Linked DNA regions of Homo sapiens: region 1 is linked to region 2. The links come from fine-mapping of genetic effects on plasma protein levels. A gene starts in region 2. The other region holds a variant in brackets. All regions are shown on one strand. Distances are from middle to middle.

Region 1 (11,337 bases), 25 kb after region 2:
TTTTGGGAAAGTTATAATCCATCAAGATAGAGAAATACATGGATAACAGATAATAATGCAATATGATATGGGCTACAGGATGTTCTGCCTGCTATAAAATCACAGAGAAAGGAGCAACCAATCCCTAGGGTCAGGAGAAGGGTCACAGCAGCCTTCTCCAAAGATGTTCACAGATATTTTCTAATAGGTACCTGGGTATATATGTTCAGGGGAGAGGTGGAGTGTGATCTTCAAGGACATCTTAGAACAAGAAGACTGCCAGGAAACAAAGCTGAAAGGCCTTTAAAACCCAGTTTCTTGGTATCAAACATGTAGCTGAGGTCATCCCTGGGTTTCTTCAGAAGGTGCTTGAGAACTAATGTCTGTAGTTTTCATTTCCTCTAGCACTTGACTATGCAAAGAGCTCTATCAAGTAAATTACAGAAGACAGACCCCACCTGTTCAGCCTGAGGTGCTCAGGTGCCTTCGAATCAGCTGCAGAGGATGAGTCACTGAGCATTCCCTGGTACTTTGTTGCCTGGAAATGGGAAAGACGACCATGACTGTAGCATTTTGAAGGAATCCAATTAGCAGTTTAGTTGGAACTATCCCAAAGCTCACCTCCAGGCCATTTGCATTCTTGACCTTTGAAGTAAGTTGCAGTCTAAATTTCCAAGGTGAGGTGATGGGTGGGAAGCCCAATCTGAAGGCCCTGGCACCTCTGTTTTGACTGTGCTAGGTTGTTATCAAAGGCTTTAGAGAACAGAAATCAAGGGGAGGTGTCCTAACGGGCTCGAGAGGCAGTGAGATGTTGATGATGGTTTAGATAGATGAGGGTGGTGAGTAAGGGGGAAAAGGGCAAGGTATACCCGTGATTCAAACTCATTAACAGGACATTAGGACCAACATATAATATATGACGAGTGTTGGTCTTAAACTTAACAAACCTGTTTCATGAACTTCAAGGATGGGGAACAGTTTTGCCTTGTTATTTCTTGAACAGTCAGCAAGCATTTACTGAACTGATAAACCAGATCCATTCTAGGCACTGCTTATGACCATGAGAGTTAGACTTCACAAAGAAATATTCTTTAAAATGTAAACTGGCATTTGGAATCAGAAATTCAGGTAGCAACATCAGAGGCTGTCTTATTTCCTTTGTATACTTGGAGTTCTGAGGTTTAAGACTTTAAAACTGCAATTAAGACTTCTAGTTTTTCCTAGGAGATTTACCCCAGTGCAGGTGGCTGCCACCAGGTGAGAGATAGAACTAGATATTGCCATCAGCTGCTCAGCCTTCCTGCTCTCTGGCAGGTGCAGCTGAACACGCAGCCGCCACAACCTGGAGGCTCACTGTGCCTATCCATAAATGAAATGCGATGGACAGCAAAAATGAGCCCTATTACTAAATCACAGATTCCTACTGCTGAGAGCACAGTTGCAAAACAAGAAAATACCCAAGTGTTTAAATTATCTATTACCTATTTGAGATGATAATTCTGACTTTGTTCCCTGATAGCATTTTACTTTTATCCAAAGCCATTTTTCTGCAGAAACTTTCCCCACATTTGCACTGCCTATATTTTGTTAGTTTCCCTTCACTTGTATACCATTAATTTAGATAAAAGTCCTTATTAGACGAATTCACCTAGGTATACTTTTTTTTTTTTTTTTTTTTTTGAGATGGAGTCTCACTCTGTCACCCAGGCTGGAGTGCCGTGGTGCGATCTCGGCTCACTGCAACATCCGCTTCCCGGGTTCAAGTGATTCTCTTCCCTCAGCCTCCTGAGTAGCTGGAACTATAGGTGTGTGCCACCATGCCCAGCTAATTTTTTGTATTTTTAGTAGAGACGGGTTTTCACCTTGTTAGCCAGGATGGTCTCTATCTCCTGAGCCAGTATACTGTTTTTGAAGATTCTGTAAATCCATTTTGGAATAAAGTGGGGTGCAAATAATTAGTGGTGCTCTGTCTATGTCAAGCTCTGGCTCTTCCAGGTGTGGACTGACACCGAATGCATCTGAGAATTTCTGGCCCTTAGAAGAGGTACCAGGAAGAGCACACATAGCCAAGGCTGAGGGTGGAGCTTGGGTGATACTCTAGGATTCTGTAACTCCTCCCTCAGAAGAGCATGGTATATGCAGTACAGTGTTTAGGAAGCAGGAAGGGTCCTAGCGTCCGGGCCCTTCTGCCATCCTTGGGGTCTTAGAGAAACTACTGGAGAAGGAATAGAGAACAGGGCTTGTCAGAGGTGGGGGAGCTTTTGAGACAATCTGTTCTAGTAGAACCAATTCCTGCAAGTAGGCTTCTCCTTCTTGCTCAAGGCCTGTGGTTGACGTCTCAGTCAATCATGATGTCTCCACTTGCCTTTGTCCATTGAATCTCAACACTTCCTGAGAACCCTTCCAGGCCAACACACCAGACAATAACCCCTGTAGCCAAGATGGAGGGAGACGCATGCTCAGGTCTCCCTTTGGGAAAGGACTTGCTGCCTACCTGCCAAGAGTAGAGTTACTAGCAGCCTTCAGCTATTAGGTCCTTCAGGATCTGTCTCGGCTTTTGAGTTGAGGTTCTTCCATGGGCATCTCCTTTCCAATGCTTGAGCAGGGCTGTGGTGCAAGGACCCAGCCATTTCTCTCCAATGTGGGACACCTCTAAAGGACAATCTGTCCTCCAGAGCTCCCAGATAGGCAAGTAAAGATCACTCTCCCTGCCCATTCCTTCCTTTTCTTCATTTTCCTTTACAGGTATCACTCTCTAATAAATATTTTGCATCCCTATTTATCATGTCTGTACCCCTAAAACCCCAACTAGTTATAAGTACTAATCAGCTTAGCAAGAAAGACACACCAACATTTATGGAACATTTATGTGCTAGAAATTATTCTAAGTAATCAACATGTATTCTCTTTTTAAATCCTGGAACAATGATATGTGCTAAGTACTATTATTATTTATATTTTAATGATGAGGAGACAGGCACAGAAGACTTTAGTGACTTGTTCAAGGTCAAACAACTAGGTGGAATCAAGATTTGAGTGTCAACAATCTGACTCCAGGGCTCCTAATTGCTTTGCTGAGCTATCTTATTTGCCATTCCTAGGCTAGCTTAACCACTTTACTCATCTCTTGCTACTACTATTTAAGCAAGGAGATTTGCTCTTGGGGTAAACAGTTAGTATATATCTGGGAGAAGATGGGTCCTTTCATTCTTTTTCCGGTATTTCCAGCTCATGGTATGTTGCCTAGCACATAGCAGGAGCCCAATAAAGTTTTGATGATGGATGAAGACAGAAGAATTGAAAATCCTATCATCCTGACTGAGATAAAAGAACATGGTAGGAAAAATGATAGTTTACTGTGAATGATAGTTTACTATGATGGTGACTGCATATGGGGTAGGCGTGACAGGAAAAGAGACAATTTATAGACTGTAAAAACTCTTTGTGACTTATGATTTTAGATTCACTCTAATTTCAGCATAGCATCAGCCCTCATTATTCTGGCTGGTGTGCCAATGTAGGAGAAATTATAAAGCAGTTAATTCTAATTTGTCTGAAGCTTAAGATACAGTTGTATGAATCTATACTTTTCTTTAACCAAAACAGAACAGTATCCTTTAAAACTTAACTGAGATGTTGAAGGTTAACAGGTATCTCTGAGAAGAAAGTTGTCTTTGTGTTTTAAAACATGGTTGGTAGTCATTCAATTACCTTCTTCTCATCCTTATTCTGCAATCCATACTGGGTTGGTAACTCTGTAGGTACTGGTTTTATAATTAATATTATGTATTTAGTAGGCAATAAATTTTTATTGTATTTTAATAAATTAACCTTGCTAACTAATGTGGAAAACTATAATACCATAAGTGTAGGGAATAATAGAGTCGATACCTTAAAGATTATTAAAGGCAAAATGTTTTTATCTCAAAAAAGTAAATAAGTAAAATTCAAAAATGCCTAGAGATCAACCCTAGGTGGCCGCTTAGGGATGGAATTTCTGGGGTTCTGCTAATGAAATTAATTCATGATGTTTTCTCAGTTTGCATACTTATAAATCTATATGGTGTCACAGATGTGTCTTTGAAAGTGCAATCCCTTTTGAGACCTGTAATGACCGAGCAGGTATGAGTTTCGGCTGCTCTTCTGTGGCTTCCTTTTTTTAGTCTTCTCACGGCTGTCTTAACACATTTGCTGTTCTGTCTTCTGGGGCTATAAACACCCAGAGAGTAGAATCTATATATTATCGTTTCTCCAGCTGTTTCCTAATCGGCTTAAAATGATGCACTTCTGTAAACTTTTGTTGAGCAGTTGAAAAAGGACAGCCTGAGGTATCTGAGGGGATTCAGGTTTTGGGACTGAAATTCACTTTTGTGTTTCACTAGCTGTGTGACCACAGGCCACTCACTTCTCTGAGTCTCTGAAGCATTTTAGATTGATGAGAAATAATATTCTTTTGTTATAAGGTTATGTGAAGATAGATTCATAGGATATATGTATTATCTGGCTCATAATAGAGGCTTAATATTCATCCCTTGTGTCTGTGGTGGAAATATTGTCTTAAGGCTTTACTTTCATTGTGTTCTTAATAGTCAAAAAAGTGGTTTTCCCCTTTAAAGAACACACAGGAGATCCACTTCCTCTTTGGCTGCCTTGTTTTTCTTTCACTGATTTGTCAATTTCCATCACTGATAGTGAAGCTTTTTGTGCTAAGGCTCTTCTCTTTATAGTACAGATAATAGGAAATGCTGCAACCAAATCCAAAGGGACCAGAACCAAAAAGGAGACTTTCTAATTTGAGATTTGACACCCATTTCAGCTGAGAATAAGGTTTGGTAAATATTTAAAATGGATTACATTTCTTGAAAGGACTTCTGCTGAATTTTATAAAGGAAAGATCAAAGCCTTCAGGTTTAAGTTTGATTCTACATATTTTCTACTTATGGTGAAATCCTCTGAGCCTTTTTCTCCTATAGAAAAGTTTTAATAAATCCTTGCTGAACCATTTCCACTAGAGAATTTGTCTCTATTACATTGAGGAGACTGGATATTTTAATTCTCACAGTTGATTGAATTCCAGTTCCGGAGCATCTAAATACTCTATCTTCTAGAATATCATCAATTAGTTAATTATATTTCATGATCCTAGTTTATATAAAATTCATACAAGGAAGACATTTGACTAATTTATCCTTAATACCCTTATAACATTGTTCTAAGAGTACAAATATAGCCTAGAATGTAGTAATGATGATAATAATAACAGCAACATTGGCCAGGTGCAGTGGCTCATGCCTGTAATCCCAGCACTTTGGGAGGCTGAGAGGTGGGAGGATTGCTTGAGCCCACGAGTTTGAGACCAGCCTAGACAATATAGTCAAGCCTCTTCTTTACAAAAAATATAAAAATTAGCCAGGCATGGCTGCATGCACCTGTGGTCCCAGCTACTTGTGAGACTGAGGTGGGAGGATCACTTGAGCCCAGGAGTTTGAGGCTACAGCGAGCTGTGATCATGCCACTGCACTCCAGCTTGGGTGACAGAGGAGACCCTGTCTCTGAAAAATAAATAAACTTTCTTTGTATCTAAGGTTTTTGTAAGAAAATGGTGACAATAACTGTAGCCAAACTATCTCAAAGCATTGTCACCTGTGTCAATGGACACAGAAAGGTTTTGAACAATATCATACAGAACATATTACAGTAGTGAATGCCTTAACACCCTTTCTTCACGATAGAATTCCAATTTGATTTTGATAAAGGCCTTGAAGGAAGCAGTACCCTATGTTATTTCTACACATAATCACCCTAAAACATTGTAGAAAAAAATTTGTACACAAGCCAACAACCTGATACACACATCATCCTCAATATTCAGAGATTAACATGTTAAGAAGAATGTTAACACTTTCAAAAGATTAAAATATTAATAATGTAATTATTGCCTGTGAATGTATTTGGGAAACATAGCATCAAAATCAAACAAATCATTCTTAAATCTTCAAAACCCAGTGTGTGGCAGGTCTAATCCTCCTGCTAAATGGTTAGATTGAACACAAATAGGGAGTGAGAATGGTTACATTTCTATTGACC[C/T]TGAAATAAATATCAAAGAGCAGAGTGCTATTAAATTCTAGACATAATAATCCACTGTACAAAACTACCTGAATCCTGAGTAACTGTTTCTCCTTGTAATAAGCAACCACCATTAAAGGGGATACGACACGTCTGACAGATGTGAAAGCCACTAAGTCATCAAAGAAAACTTATCCCTTCCCCCAAACAGGTGAGTCAATAGCATCGACATTTTCAAATGTCAGCTGCTGGATTATTATTTAATTCTGTTTGGAGCAAAACAGCATTAGTTCATTGATTCAAAAAGCCATTTTTTGAGCACCTGCTAGGTACCAGGAACCATGGCAGGCTTCAAGAGGTGCCAACGATAAATAGCAGACAAGATTTTCCCTAAAGAGTCCACAGCCCAGTGCAGCAGATAGACATATGCAGAAATCAACTTGGTATAGAAAAATTGCTAAGGGTTTTGGTGTCCTTGAAGGGTGTGCAGGATGAATGGGAAGGGCATTCCTGTGTGAGGGGGTAACATGCACAAAAGGAAGAGACCACAGAGCTTTGGGTCAGAGCTAGGGAACAATGCTGTGTCACTAATGCTGAAGGATGCTGAAGGGTACTAAAGGTACATAAAGTTTAAAAGGGAATTAGAATCATACTCTGGAGGGCCTTGGATGATAGGCTGAGCTTACATTTTGTTTTATTGCCAGTGGAAGCCATGGTGGGAGGTTTGAGCTGAGGTTGGAAGTTTCATCCAAGAGGGGCCTTAGATGGGTTGTTTGTAGGGTACATTTTCAGGACCTGCAGTTTGACACTGTTGACCACCCTTCTTGAAACTTGCATGTCCTTATTCTCTTCTAGTCTTCCTCCTGCTGCTTGGCCCACAGCTTGTCTATCTCTTTCTCAGGCTTTTTCCTTCTGCTTCCTTCTGTCATTGACTTTTCTCATGCTATGAGCTCTCCTAGGGTGAGCTCATTCATATTTATAGATGAAAGACTCTAACGCATTTACCTCCCAGCAAGTGTACTAAACTGAACTGCAGAGTCATGTTTCTGATAACCTTTAAAAATCTTCCTCCACCTGCCCAGCATGGGTAGACTTTGTTATGGGCTGAACTGTGTCCACCCTACCCCCCATATTTGTATGTTGAAGTCCTAATCTCTATTACCTCTGAATGTGACTATATTTGGAAATAGGTTCTTTAAAGAGGTAATTAAGTTAAACTAAGGTCGTTAGCTGGCCCTAATCAAATATGACTGGTGCTCTTAGAAGAAGAAGAGATTAGGACACAGACACACAAATAGGAAAGATCATGTAAAGACACAGGGAGAAGGTGGCCATCTACAAGCCAAGGAGAGAGGCCTCAGAAGATTCCTTTGTTCTTGCACTTCTAGCCTTTAGAATTGTGAGAAAAATAATTTCTGTGGTTTAAGCCACTCAATATGTGGTACTTTGTTACGGCAGCCCTAGCAAACCAATGTGGACATCTTACACTTAACATATTTAAAATTAAGCCGTGGCCAGGCACGGTGGCTCACACCTGTAATCCCAGTAGTTTGGGAGGCCAAGGTGGGAAGATCACTAGGTTGAGAGATTGAGCATCCTGACCAACATGGTGAAATCCCGTCTCTACTAAAAATACAAAAATTAGCTGGGCGTGGTGGTGCGTGCCTGTAGTCCCAGTTACTTGGGAGGCTGAGGCAGAGGAATCACTTGAACCCGGGAAGTGGAGGTAGCAGTGAGCTGAGATCATGTCACTGCACTCCAGCCTGGTGAAAGAGCAAGACTCCATCTCAAAAATAAATAAATAAATAAATAAATAAATAAATAAATAAATAAATATGAAGCCCTACCATCACCTCCCTCCCAGGCCGTGAAAATCAGGCACTCATAGGGATGAAGTCCAAAGTTCGAGTCTAAGGGCCAGTAAGTAGAACTCTCTCTAAGGCATTTGTCAAGACAGCCAGATGGAAGAGGGTATTATGATTTCCTGGACATTGTACTGATTTGGAAATCAGAAATAACGTCTGGTCAATTAAAAAAAAGTAAGAATATATAAATAATCATCTAGAGAAGATAATAAAGTCACCTGAAATCTCATCACATTCATATAAATATTTCCCAACCTTCTGCCATGTAAAGAATATGCATTTTTTTTTCTGGGAAACATGATAAGTTACTATCATACTATTCTTTAACCTTCTCATATGTCAGACTTGTAAGTCTGTACAAGAAATCTAAGATTTGTTTCCAAGCCAGCGTCATCTCTTGCTTGAATTACTACTATAGCCTATTATCATGTACCTGTTTTTTCTTGCTTTTCCTGAATTGCCCATTGAGCAGAGTGCTATTAAAAAATGATTATAACATATTAATGTAAAATATGTTCTTGTTCCCTTCCTTACAACCCCTTCCCTCAGCCCTCCATCCATTGGCAGCCCATTGCATTTCAAATAAAATCTACATGTCTTGCCATGACCACAAAGCCCTCACAACTGTCTTTCTAATCGCATCTCTCATCACCTTACTTGCTATGCCTTGGGCTAGTTATTGGTTCTTGCAGTATTAAAAGGTCTCCAGGCCTTTGCATTTTCTGATTGTTTTTTGTGGAGTACTATTCTTATTTTTTGAATGACTTGATTTATTGTTCACATCTCAGAACAAATGCTACCTCCTCAGTGATGTTTGTCTTTCGGTCCACCTCATAGAAAACATCTTCTGGGTCACTTTTATCACATTCCTTTGTTTTATTCCTTCAGACTATTTAACATTTACTGAAGTGAATTTGTTTTATTTCTGTCTGCCTTGCCTAGAATGTAATCTCCATGAGGGTAGTGACTTTGCAGGTATTTAGCTTCTAGAAGAGTGCCTAGCTCATAGCCAGCACCAACACACACATACTTAATGCATAAATACAACCTCCTTTTTATTGTGGAGTTTAGATTATCTTCTTATTTGTAATATTTCCCAATAAGGAGATACCTTAAGTATGTAGAAAAGAGTGTACTATAAAAAAACCCTTTATACCCATCAACTAGTTTTATATTTCTTAATATTGTGCCAGTTTTGTTTTTTATACAGGTGTTTTATTTTTCTGAAAGATGAAACATTACAGTTTTACTTGACAGTCTCTATGGAGTTCTTTTGATCCCATTCTTTTTCCTTCCCTCTTGGAAGTGATCATAATCCTGAAATAACTCTTTGATATCAGGTATATTAGTCAGGGTTCTCCAGAGAAACAGAACTGGTAGGATAGATCTAGATATCTAGATATAGATATATAAAAGAGGATTTATCATGAGAATGGGCTCCTAGGATTATAGAAGCTAAGAAGTCTCACAATATGCCATCTGTAAGCTGGAGAACCTGGAAGGTCAGTGGTATTCAACCTGAGTTCAAAGGGCTTGAGAACCAGGGGGCTTGTGGTGTAAGTTCTGGAATGTGAAGCGTAAGAACCAGGAGTTCTGATATCCGAAGGCAGAAGGTGGATGTCCCAGCTCAAGAGAAGAGAGTACATTTGCCCTTTCTTGACGTTTGTTTCATTCAAGCCCTCAAAGAATTGGATGATGCCTGACTATATCAGTGAGGGAGGATCTTTACTCGGTTTATGGACTCAAATGCTAATCTCTTCTGAAAAGACCTTGACAGACATGCCCGAAATAATGTTTTACCAGCTATCTGGGCATCCCTTAACCCAGTCAAGTGGAGACATAAAATTAGCCATCACACCACGGAAAAGGAATGATTAGTTTTTATAACTAAGAATATAAATTGCCTTCAATTTCTGTAGAGTTTGCAATTATGCAAAGCTTAACTATTTTTGGCAGAAGGGGAATCATACCCTGATTCAAGAGTTCCAGTGGTAAGTGGACAAAAAGCATACACCACTTTCCATGCTTTCCTTTGTCAGTCCTCAGAACTGGCCTCAATCAGTGGCCACAGTAATAGCAGCTTGGCTGCCCTCCTTCAGATGCTCTCTGAGAGAGATTTGTGAAGTTCTAAACTACTAGCATCCAGCTAGCACTGATTATCCACTTACTCTTGCAACCAGAAGAAAGCAGAAGAAGAAAGCAGGAGATTCTGGACTTAGACTTTTGCCCACTAGGTGGGTTTGGGCACATCACTTAACCTCTCTTGGCCTAGGAGATAGTCTCCTTATCTCATAAACGGTAATGGTAACTTTCATCCTTTATATCTATTTTAAGTACTAATTCTTATGCATGATTTATTCATGTACCCTAGCCTCTTCCCTTTACATGTAGTATGCCTCTGTTTGGATGCAACTGGTTTTAAGTGCCCTATTTAGATTTGTAGAGCTTGCAGAAATGAATAATTGTCCCAACACCCTTGTGACTTGTAGGTTGCTCAGAGTCAGGCAGATATTAGACCATGTCTTTGCCAAAGATTATTTACCTCCTTATCTCCCCGTGTCCTTGCTAGTTTGTTTCAGGGCAGCAATATACGCAGCTCCAAGCAATTATTTATGATTGGGCTGATCTAGTCTTGATAATGCTATTACTGTTTACTAGACTTTCTACCTTCCCTTGCAGCTAGGTATAGCTGTATAACCCAGTTTCCAGTAAGACATAAAGTCAGATTGGCAAAAGAGATGGAGAGTCTTCGGGGAATGGGGAACCTGAGTCGTTCGTAACATCATTGAGTAGCTGAACTACCATGCCACTAACTCCAAGCTTCTCGTTATTGAAAATCATAAGTCCATAGTTATTGAGGTCACTAGTTTTTTGTGTTTATTTGTTTTTTTGACACTTGCAGCTAAAAGCATTTCTACCTAAAATCAGTTTTCTACTGATGCTGTAACAAAATATCATAAACTTAGTGTCTTAAACAACTCAAACTTACTACCTTACAGTTCCAGAAGTGCAAAATGGTGTCAGTGGGCTAAATTCAATGTGTTGGCAGGGCGATGTTACTTTCTGGAGGTTCTAGAAGAATGTTTTCATGCTTTTTCCTGCTTTCAGAGGTCACCCACATTCCTTGACTTGTGGCCCCCTTCCTCCATCTTCAAAGCCAGCAACATCGATCTCTCTGTGCCTCTCTTCTGTGGCCACATCTTCCTTTGATTGCTTCTATTTGGCCTTGTTCATCTACTTTTAAGAATTACTGCATGATTTATAGTCCTTTGGGTATATACCCAGTAATGGGATGGCTGGGTCAAATGGTATTTCTAGTTCTAGATCCCTGAGGAATCGCCACACTAACTTCCACAATGGTTGAACTAGTTTACAGTCCCACCAACAGTGTAAAAGTGTTCCTATTTCTCCACATCCTCTCCAACAC
Region 2 (11,337 bases):
TAACTAGTTTGCTCAGACCAGAAAGAGTATGAGCTGGGTTGTCCTTAACTTAAATCTGACTTTACCATTTTACTGCATTGTCTCTCTCAAGGGACAACCATCAACTAATATTTATTGAGGAATTACTATGTGCCAAGTACTGCTCTAAGCCCTTTTATCTGTTATTTCATTAATCATGAACACAACTCTCTAAAGCAGGAAATATTATTATCCCCATTATACAGTTGAGGAAACTGAGGTCCAGAGAATTTAAGTAACTTGTTCGAGATGACACATCTGCTTAAGATGATTGAGACAACATAAATCTGAAGCCATTGTCCTTTACTCTCCCTAATGTAAAGGTTTATTATTTTGGTCTGCAAAACTACAGGAAGAAGGAAAAGGCTATAATTTAAAGCATCTTATTCAACATTGTTAATATAGCCCTAATTTCAATGCATTGCTATAAGCCACACCCAATACCAGATTAGAAGGGACAGAGATGATTATTATAATAATATCTGTAGTTTTGCTTCAATCTTTACCAAAATGACTTCTTATTATGGTGGAGTAGTCAAAGGAGAGCCGGATTAAGAGCAAGGAGGCTAGGATTCTAATCCTGGCTCTGCCACAAACAGTCTTTGTGATTGCTGTGGTCTGAACGTTTATGTTGCTCCAAGATTCATGTTGAACCCTGATCTTTATTGTGGTGGTATTAAGAAGTTGGGCCTTAGGAGGTGATTAGATCATGAAAATGGACCTCTTATGTATGAGATTAGTGCTCTTATAAAAGAGACTTGAGGGAGCTTTCCGTTGTTTCCACTGTATGAGGATGCAGCAAAAAGTCACCAGCATTGAAGTAGGGAGCAGGCCCTCCCTCCCCAGACAAGAAATCCGCTGGCACCTTGATCTTGGACCTCCCAGCCTACAGACTGTGAGCAATAAATTTCTGTTGTTTATTAATTACCCAGTCTAAGGTATTCTGTCATAGCAGCCCAAAAGGACTAGGACAGTGATCTTGGGTGGGCCACTTAATATCACTGGGCTTTAATTTTTCCATCTCAAAAATTCAAGAAGTAAACTATAGAAACTCTAGTATCTCCACCCATTCTGTGATTCTCTCTATGCTTTTTTTCTCCCAAATTACATCAGAAAATGTCTTCAAAAAATGACAGGAAATTTAAGTGACAAAACACTTCAGAAATCCAACAAAATTATTTTTAATATCTCCAAAGATAAGGAAAGGTAATATTTATAGAAACACTGGGAATTATATTTTAAGATTTCATTCCACTAATATTATAAAATACAGAATATCTAAGTCATCTGTTTGTACATAAAACAATCCAAGCCTGTGACTCTGGTGGCTAGCATCTTTATTAAAAAAATAAGATTTAAATAAATTAGTTAAACAATATGAGTGTGAAACTGAGTGCATAACTAAGACAGTTAACACGTTTAAAAGAAATCAACTCATGAAATAGTTTTAATATATAACCTGTTGAAAGAAAGCACAGATTTGGGAGAACATGGATGGATAAAATAGAAGATTGATGTAGACAGGATCCTAGAAAACAGCAGTTTCCCCTCGTCCCCCATGGCTAATTCTTTCTAAAGGAGCTATTTATTTATACAAATATATTTGTAGACAAATTAATTATATTTATTAAATTGCTGAAACTGCTTTCAAACCTACTTTCAAATCCTTTGTCATTCCAAAGAAGTGGATCCTAGGGAGGGTAGGGTGAGATAGTTTGGTTTTTTCCCTTTATCTCAAAAAGGAGTTTTGCAGGAGCCTAGTAGCATGTGATCAATTTGTTTAAGTAATGAATAGAGGCAGGCTAATTTCCACAGCCCCAAATTACAATTTCTTGCCTTTGCCCTTAACTAACAGGCTTGGTAGTAATAGCTTGGAAATCTTGAGCTCTGTTACTCCCCATCTGTACCAAACAATTCAGAAAGATACATCATGTCTCAATACTCCATGTGCTGGAGAAAAGGCGAGGTGGAACTGATGCCACTAACTTTCATGGGACTGGTGTGGCTGCGGGCAGCCTCATCAGCTTACCTCAAACATCGTCTTCCAGTATTTTCTACCCTTGACCTTTCTGATCTAAAGAAGTCATTGTTGTGTTTCTAAGTTCCAGGCAGAGTGCTAGGCATTGACGCTACAATGCTGAAGATGCTGACCTTGCTCTAGAGGGCCCAAGAGTCTACCAGAAGACTGCTGCAGTTAGTTCTTTCACTCACTCCCATTACTGCTTCCTCCTTCTAGGCTTATGTTTCCCCCTAAGAGAGAGGCATTGCCTGAGAAGATTTCTAAGATTTTTAAAGAAGAAACCAGGCACAAGTCTGTGAGTTAAGACTGAATAAACCTTATGAAATCAGACCTAGGAATATAGAGCTGAATCATGATGGAGTCCTGGCCCCCAGCACTCTCAATTCCCAGAGTTCCCTCTGCCAGTAGACCAGGGATCAGTAGAGTCTGAATCCCCTGATCCAGTGGTTTGTCCCCTGGGCACATTGCACACACACAGACTTTTTGAATATCTTGGTCCTTCAGGACAAGGGTATGTGGCCTGAAATGTCCACTGATCTTTATTCTTTCATTTCACCAAAGGAGCAGTAGCTGGGCCCCAGGCCTCGCACAGTACAATCAGTGCTGTCGCTGTCACACTTGCCACAGTGACACTGGGTGGCCACTGGGTATGTATACAAGGAATCTGCATGGTGAGCACAGCCGGGCACTCTCACTGTTTCGTATACCAGTTCCTTGAAGGTACATGTTTTCTGGATTTTGGGCCTGGCTGGGTCCTTATACACCAGATCCTGAGGAGTTTAAGAAGAGAGTTAGGTTATGGTATTGTGGAAGTTCCTATTTAGCTTAGTCAAAATGAGACAGAAATTGAATACTGCTTGCTCTAACATTTACCCATTAAAACATGACCTCATAAATGACCTATATGCTATTTACATTTCTAAATTGTTCTTGAAATCTTCCAGAAAATACAAGTAATTTCTTTTCTTACTTCCTATGGCTATATCAAAATATTAACTATTTTTCAAAATATAAAGGAACTTTGAATTTTAGCATAGAAAAATGATGAAAAACATGACAGGATTTTAAGTTGACTTTTCATATTTAATTGAAAGCTGTATTAATAACAAACCATAAACAAAGATATCCAATGTCTCAGAAAAAATATTTTAAAATACACTGCCCTGAGTATTTATAAAAGGTCAAAAATATATAATTTTAAATTTTAATGCTTAAGTTAACATGTTTGCTAAGGCTAACATAAGATTTTAAATATTCCAACTCCTTGTGGACATTTTTCTCCCTTGAAAGCTGTATACTTTGCAGGGTTCCTAGTTTCAAAGGATATGCAGTTTGCATATAAGAATTTTTAATCCAGGTAGAAATTATTTGTAGTAGCACTTTCCAGTGGAAAAATTATTTATACTGCGTAGAGAAATTGGGGCTTCTGTTTATTTTAATATCATCCTACCAAATGTATATCCCAAGAAGGTGCAATAAATTGTGTAATAAATGGAGTTTGATCAAACTCATTTACCGTCAAATAAAGTATCGTTCATTTAAAAAGTTGCCATTTTCAATTTTAGTTTATAGAATGAAATTCTGCATAGATAATTAGGGGTGCTGCAGAGAAAAAAGAAAGCACCATGGAAACTATTTCTCTACTTGTATTAATGCAAGGAAACTGCAAACACAGACTAGCAACTGATGCCTCTATGTCTTGGTTTTCTCAATGCTATAACGAAGGGAGTGGGTTTGCTGATTCATTTTTGTTCTAACAGTCTGCAAGAATTGATTGTGTTCTCAGGCTGTTTTTTGGCATTTGTATTTAGTAGGGCCAGGAAGACAATTTTTTTAAGTGGCTGTCTATGTTTTTATGTGACTTGGAGACATATTTTGGTGTGATTTTGTGTCAAAGATGTAGTGTCAGTTAAAGAAATTGCCTTTATGAGAATATTATAGGTCCTTTATGATTAAATATATGTATGTTTCCATGTTTATCTCTCTATGTGTAAAAACGTAACATAGAAATACTTTTTCCCTGTAGATGCAAAGTTGGACTAGTACCAAATTGATCAGATTAAATCTGAGGCTTTCCTAAATTTACCCAAATCAAATCCAAGCCCAAACATCTAAGTGATATCGTGGTCATTAACCCCAATCACAACACAGACAGTCTTGGCTAAAGGACTCATGGCTGTTACTTAGAATACATAAAATATTGATAAAGTAGAAACTAATGAAACCGGCCTAATACAGACCTTCAACACCCTTGCTTCCAGCAAAACATGGTACCTACCCTGGTGTAGCAGTAGCCAGCACACCAAGTGGTGTTGATGCTTATGCAGAAACGACATTCTTCTTTCTCTATTGCAATGGTGATGTTGGTCAGCTCACAGCTATTGCAGCAGATTGCTTTCCAGCAACAGAAAAGGAAGAAAAACTGGAGTGTCTTCATCCTGGTCTGGGAAGCAAACAATGAAGCCCACTAGAAACTGAGAAACCAAAGAACGATAATCATTATGTAAGCTGACCAAACCAAAAATAATTGGTCTGCTCATCCTCCTCAATCACATTTTGCTTCAAAAGTTTTTTTTCCTTCCTTATGCCTTTTTACTTACATCTTTGTTTCTTGGAACAACATTTTTCCTTGTCCTTCTTCAATTTTTGGGTCAGGGTGGGAATATATTATAGATCAAAACTCCAATATAATGATTTAAGCAGAGGAATATTTAAAGATTAGAATCTTATTGCTGACTGTCATAAAGTAATTACTCTGATAATTGTGATCATCATATTTGTTCTTCCATTATTATTTTAAAGTCTATTTTTGTCTGAAAAGAAAAATAAAATTCTTTTCTTTTCTTGAGACAGGGTCTTGCTCTGTTGCCCAGGCTGGAGTGCAGTGGTATAATCATGAATCACTGCATCTTCAACCTTCCAGGCTCAAGCAATCCTCTGACCTTGGCCTCCCAAAGTGCTGGGATTACAAGCATGAGCCACCATTCCTGGCCAAGAAAATTCTATACTACAAAATTATGTCTTCATTTTTAGAATCTCATAAATATTTTCTTTTGCTCACATTTGTTTAAAATAAGACCATTTCAGAAGAGAGGCATATTGGTCTATAAAGTCAGTTACTTGCTAACAGTGATTACGTTATATTAACCATATTTTACAAGCCAGGTTGACAAGCATAAATTTCCTACACAACAGTAGTGAGAAGCTCTAGTTTTGTCCTCCATGTCCTGACAAATCTGTAATTTCAAAAGTAGCTGTCACCACTTGAAAACGGTAGATGCCAAGACTCACCTGTGGTCGGCTGCCTTGCCTGGCAAGAGCTGTAGACTGAATGAAATCTCAGTTCACCTTTTATACAAAATCATGTGCAACTAACACCTTGTGGATTTGTTGGGTATTAATATGACCAATGCTAGCCTGAAGCTTGCTGTAAGTGAATCAGTGTTTAGATAGACAGGGAGATCAAGCTTTACTAAAGTAGTCTAAACGCAGTAGATTAGAAAAAATAATGTTACTAGAGATGATGATTTTGTACAAATTAAATTTGATACAGTAGCACACCCACTCCTTTACCTTCTCAAATTAATTGTGACTCCAGATTTTTCTTTTGTATCTTTAAATCAGGAAATTCAGAGTCCTTTCCAAGTATTGCTTTGACTCTGTTCAGGAGATGCATTAAAAAATATGGTTAATAAATTGCTCCAAGAGCATATCAAAAGCTGTGAAGGAAGAAACAAACAAAGAGAAAACATTTCATGATCTGGCTCCTGTCTAAAGTGTGAACTGTATCTCTCTTTCCCTCCCACATTCTGGCCCCCTAATCACAAATCTTTATTTTTTGATGTTTTAGCAAGAACTTTCTACTTTACTTGTAATTCCATAAATATGTTGCTGATTCATATCTTTAGATCTTTGCATGTAATGTTCTTCCTGCCTGAAATGTCCTTGCTTCCTCCCTGCCTCCTCCAACACCACCCTGAACCCTGGCAAATTCCTCAACCTTCAACATCCAGGGGAGTTTCACCTGTCAAAGTTTAGGATGGGAGGTGAGGGAGAACCATAATCACTACCTTCTGTGTGTAACCATTTATAGGCTCTTGTTTCCTCCAATAAACTATGATCTCTTTGGAGACTAGGATTGCTTTGTTTAATAAATATTTACTAATCAAACAGTGTGACTGGAGCAAAAGGACAACAGCAGTAATATTAGAATATGATGTCAGAGAGATAACAGGAGTCAAATGTTGGAACTTGTAGACCAGTGTAAGGGCTCTGGTTTGTACTCTTTGTGTAATGGGACCCATTGAAGGATTTTAAGTAGAGGAGTGACGTGACATGATCTGATTGAGTTCTAAAAGGACTCCTCTGACTGCTGTGTTGCTAATATAGGGGAACCAAGAAACAGGAAGACCCGTTAGGATGCTATCAATAACCCAGGTGAGAAATGATGTTTGTTCAATAACCCAGGTGAGAAATGATGTTTGTTCAGACTAGTATGGTAGCTATTGGAGGTAATGAGACATGCTCTGACTCTGTATGCATTTTGAAAGTAGAACCAACAAAATTTTCTGATGGATAGATGTTGAGTGTGAGAGGAGGAAAAGGGTCAAGGATGGCTCTAAAGATTCTGGTTTGAGTAGCTGGAAGGATAAACTTGCTATCAGCTGAAAGGGGATGGCTGTAAATGTCGAAGTTTGGGAAAAGGAAATGGAGTTCAGTATGCACATGTTGAGCTTGAGTTGTTTGTACTACATCCAGGAGATAATGAAGTTTCTTTTTCCTCTTTCCAAAGGAGACTGAGGAGGGCCATTGAGGAAAGTAGGAATGGGGAGAATATGGTGTCCCAAAAGCCAAATAAAGAGAGCATCTCAGGGAGGAGCCAGTGACACCTGTGTCAGATACTGCTGACAGGTTAAGTAAGATGAGGATCAAGAACTTCACAATGCATATGCGATGTAAAGTTCGCTACTGTCCTTGGCTGTAAAAGTTACTTTGGAATGATGAAAACAAAAACCTGATTGGTATGTGTTTAAGTGATTTGGAGGAGATAAGTCATAGTGAATATAGACAATTTTTCCAAGAGCTTTTTTTTACAAAGATCAATAAAGAAATGGGTATTTGGTTAATGTGGATGTTGGGTAAAAATAACTTTCTTTTGTTTTATTTTTATTTTTTATTTTTGAGATGGAGTCTCACTCTGTCACCCAGGCTGGAGTGCAAGGGCACAATCTCGGCTCACTGCAACCTCTGCCTCCCGGGTTCAAGCCATTCTCTGGCCTCAGCCTCCCAAGTACCTGAGACTACAGGCATGTGCCACCATGCCTGGCTAATTTTTGTATTTTTAGTAGAGATGGGTTTCACCATGTTGGCCAGGCTGGTCTTGAACTCCTAACCTTAAGTCATCCAACCCTCCTTGGCCTCCCAAAGTGTTGGGATTACAGGCGTGAGCCACCGTGCCTGGCCGCAGACAATTTTCTTTTGATTTTTAACTTTAAGATGGGAGAAATAAACACGTTTGTATGGTGATAGGAATGATTGAGTAAAGTGGAAAAAGTTGGTATCAGAAGGAGAGAGAAGTTCTGAAGTGTACTTGAAGAGGTAAAAGGAAATGGGTTATAGAAGAGGAGTGGAAGCATTGTCTTTAGGCAGAACCATGGAGAGCTCATCCCGTATTAGGCAAGAAGGCAGAGCTTGATGGTGCAGATGCTAGCGAGTGGGCAAGTGTGATGGATGCAGACTCTGGTGGGTGAGGAGGGGTTGTGGGTGCAGATGCTGGTGGGTGGAGAGGTGGTGAGTGAAGATGCTGGTAGGTAGGGAAATGTGGTGGGTGCAGATGCTTGTGGATGGGGAGGAGTGATGGGTGCAGATGGTGATGGCTGGAAGGTGTGGTGAGTGTACATGGTGGTGGGTGGGCGGTGTGGTGGGTGCAGATGCTGGTAGGTTGGGAGGGGTGGTTGGTATAGATAATGGTGGGTGGGGAGGGGTGGTGGGTGCAGATGCTGGTGGGTAGAGGAAGGTGGTAGGTATAGATCTGTACCTACCACACTTTGCCTGTTAACAGCAGGGGTTCAGGCACGTGGGTTACCAAAAGTTGGATTCATCTAGGATTATGATTTTATAAAATATGTTTGACAAAGACAAAACTTAGCATAGCAGTACACATTGTAAGTACCAAATCAATATTTATGTAAATGAATATTGTGAGTATAGAAATATTTTGAAATCTGTCAGTAATTGGTAAGCAAGCATATTTCCAAGTTATAGAATGAATAAATTTTATATTATGTATATTAAATAAAAATACTAATGATTCTTGGAAAATTATAAATCTTTTCATTTTTTCCAAAGGAATGCTAACATTACTATATCTATTGCTAATACCTTGTATTATGAAAGAAAACAAAGTTTTTCATATTACCTATGTATAATCACAAGATTTATTTGTGTGAATGTAAATGAACCACTTTGTTTTAATGACTAATATGTACATAGTATTAGTTCCTTAAATTCATTTTTAAAATATTAATATTAATAGCTTCTTTTTCATTGAGTACCTCCTATGTCCCAGGTGAAACTGCCTTTGCAAAGGTTATGACAGTGAGATAAATCTAGCATGGCTGACTCCATCTTGCCTCTAGCCTCACAGGCTGGCTGTTCTCACTCATTCTTAGGTGTAGGCCAAGCTAACCATGGGAGGAATTTAGTTTATAGTTTAACGAAGCAAGGATAATAGTCCTATCCTAAAACTAACCCCCTCCTTGCTCAGGGACTGAAAATGGCCTTTCTAAACAAATGAAATGCTGTGAGATTAGGATTATGGGGGGACCTGAATTCTGATAAGATATAGGCATGGTTTTTATAATCCCTTACTAGTTCAGGAGTTATGTGTCCAGAGGTCACAAGATTTGTTACTTCCCCAATTGCTCCTATAGATAATATCATTATTGTGGAGCCTACAGTTGATCATTTGAGACATTTTTCAGGCTTTTGCATTCTGGCAACAAACTGACTCCACTTGGACGCATGCTTCATGACTCAACTGGTCGTGTGGCCTACACCCGGAAGCAGACTCAATGAAGGAGGACAGTTTTCCACAATCTTACTATTTCATTCCCCAACCAATCAGCAGCACCCATTCCCTAGTCCCCTGCCCACCAAATTATCCATAAAACCCTAGCCTCTGAGTTTTCAGGGAGACTGATTTGAATAATAACTCCAGTCCTCCCGTTTGACCTACATTAATTAGATTTGTTCTTTGCTGCAATTCCATGATTTCAGTGAATCAGTTTTGTCTGTGCAGTGAGCTAGAAGAGCACATTGGACAATTACACAGGCATTTAACTAAACATGTTAAATAGAAGTTCATATACAATATTTACAATAACACAATAACCTTTTTTTTTTTAGACAAGGTCTCACTGTGTCACCCAGGCTTGAGTACAGTGGTACAATCTTGGCTCACTGCAACCCTCTGCTTTCCAGACTCAAGTGATGCTCATGCCTCGGCCTCCCAGGTAGCTGGAATTCCAGGTGTGTGCCACCACACCCAGCAAAATTTTTTAAATTTCTTTTTGTAGAGACAGAGTTTCACCATGTTGGCCAGGCTAGTTTCCAACTCCTGGCCTCAAGTGATCCACTAGCCTCCGCCTCCCAAAGTGCTGCGATTACAGGCGTGAGCCACTGCACCCAGCCTACAATAACCTTTTAAAGAAGTTACTGTTCTTCTTTGAAAGATGAGAAAACTGAGGATAAATGCAACCTGTAAGTAGCAAAGCTGGGGTTCATATTCAGGTCAGTTTGACTCCAAAGCCAGGGGACTATTCATTGAGCCATGGTGACCTCAGTGGTCTACAGTTCTCATCAATCCCATTAATTGGAGAGACCCCAAGACAGAAATCATCCAAAGTTTGGGCCACTATTCTAAATGCCCATATTTATATTTCCACCTGCAGTTAGGTCAGAGATTCCCACAAACAGCTCTGAATTTGGCCTGTCAAGAGGCCCCCAGACCTTTCTCTCAATTCTAAGCCTCTTATGGCTAGCTCATCTCATTAGCATATTTGCTAGTTAATGCCATTACTCTCATTGAGGTTTTTGAAATATTTTATTGATAAAAATTTAGAGTTCTTTTTTATTCACCTTTGAATTCCCCAAAATAAATAGAATTTCTGTTACATAATAGTTACTGAAATACTTTTCTTGAACCAAATGAAAAAAGAAATCACTCATCATTTCTTTTATGTTGGGTTGGTCCATAGCCTGTTTGCTATCAAATGCATTCCTTGTTTTTGCTTGGTTTTGTGCTCTGTTTTGTGGGAGAAAGGACCTTGGCAGGCTGCTTTTCCCACTCTGCTGTATTAGCAGGTTTTTGCCTTTGTGAATGGAGATTGGAAAGTGAATGCAAGGAAGCAGTTGGAGTATTTCTCTCTACCTTTTACATTCTGCTTCCCTTCCTGGTAGTGACTGCATGATCTCCCTGGCTCCAGATCCCATTGGACAGCTCCTCCTGGTGGTCCCAGCTTTTGTGAGGAAACCCCAGCTGTGGTTTGAGCTTCTGCTAGGTGGTCTCACCTTCTGGCTTCTGGGAACCCCACCTATGTCCCTCCAATCCTGCACATAAATGGAGCTTGTCACTAATACTTATCTCTGATTGCCTCATATTCCCTGTCTGGCTTTTCAGCAATCTAATACTTGAGCAACCAAATCTCTGGATTAATGAATTCCCTGATTTTCCTCTATTTTGCATATCAGGTGTGATTTCTGTTTTCCTGACTAGAAACTGGCTGATACACCTTCCTTTATTTCTAGAAAATATTCCCTCTAGAAATAAAACTCTCTTGGGCTTTTTTCTTCTTTCTATATAAAAGCAACTCTTGGGCTTTAATACAGTGATATATCACTCAATATTTAACAAATGACCGAACATTATTTAGGGAAGTCCTATGTCAAATTCACCTATATTGGCTTAAAGCACCTCCCACCACCTCAAAGTCACATGTATTCTTTTTGCTTCTTCTTTGAAGGTAATAAGGTTCTAGTCCCTCTGCCTGATACATGTTTCTCCTCTTCTTTTCACCTAAGCTACTCCTACAAGTACTTCAAAACTCCATTTAAAGGTAGCTTCTAGGAGACATTCACTTACCCTGCCTTACACAGCCTCCAATGCCCAACTCTCAGTTCAGCACTTTCTGTCTTACGCTTCCTTAGTTCCCAGTTCCTACCTCAGTGGTAACACTCATCACATTCTACTTTAAATGCACAGCTGACTTCTTTTGTGAATTCTGGTAAACCAATGTCTT

Alleles and levels. Alleles are on the strand shown, and positions count from the first base shown. The strength of an association depends on the size of the effect and on how common the allele is.
In carriers of allele C in region 1, the plasma level of the protein whose gene starts at base 5,364 in region 2 tends to be higher than with T alone (moderate association).

Evidence for each region. A credible set is the group of variants that fine-mapping cannot tell apart. PIP is the posterior inclusion probability: the model's chance that the variant is causal. Protein levels are from antibody-based Olink assays in UK Biobank. Linkage for the fine-mapping came from a reference panel and not from the study's own genotypes, which makes the PIPs less certain.
Region 1: its variant is the best candidate, but not a certain one, in a credible set for the plasma level of the FSHB protein (UK Biobank, PIP 0.55).

What each region holds. Positions count from the first base shown.
Region 1 is chr11:30,199,711-30,211,047 of GRCh38, reverse strand. The region is part of intron 1 of ARL14EP-DT (ARL14EP divergent transcript); the gene reads left to right. Among named protein-coding and RNA genes, the nearest start is that of FSHB, 26 kb to the left of the region's middle. RefSeq lists an enhancer at 4,190-4,269. The variant C/T (reference allele first, on the strand shown) is at 6,067.
Region 2 is chr11:30,225,041-30,236,377 of GRCh38, reverse strand. It overlaps FSHB (follicle stimulating hormone subunit beta), which reads right to left and starts at 5,364. Exons shown (of 3, transcript NM_001382289.1): 1 at 5,330-5,364; 2 at 4,317-4,512; 3 at 1,184-2,808. The coding sequence starts at 4,475. The coding sequence ends at 2,578. The region is part of intron 1 of ARL14EP-DT (ARL14EP divergent transcript); the gene reads left to right.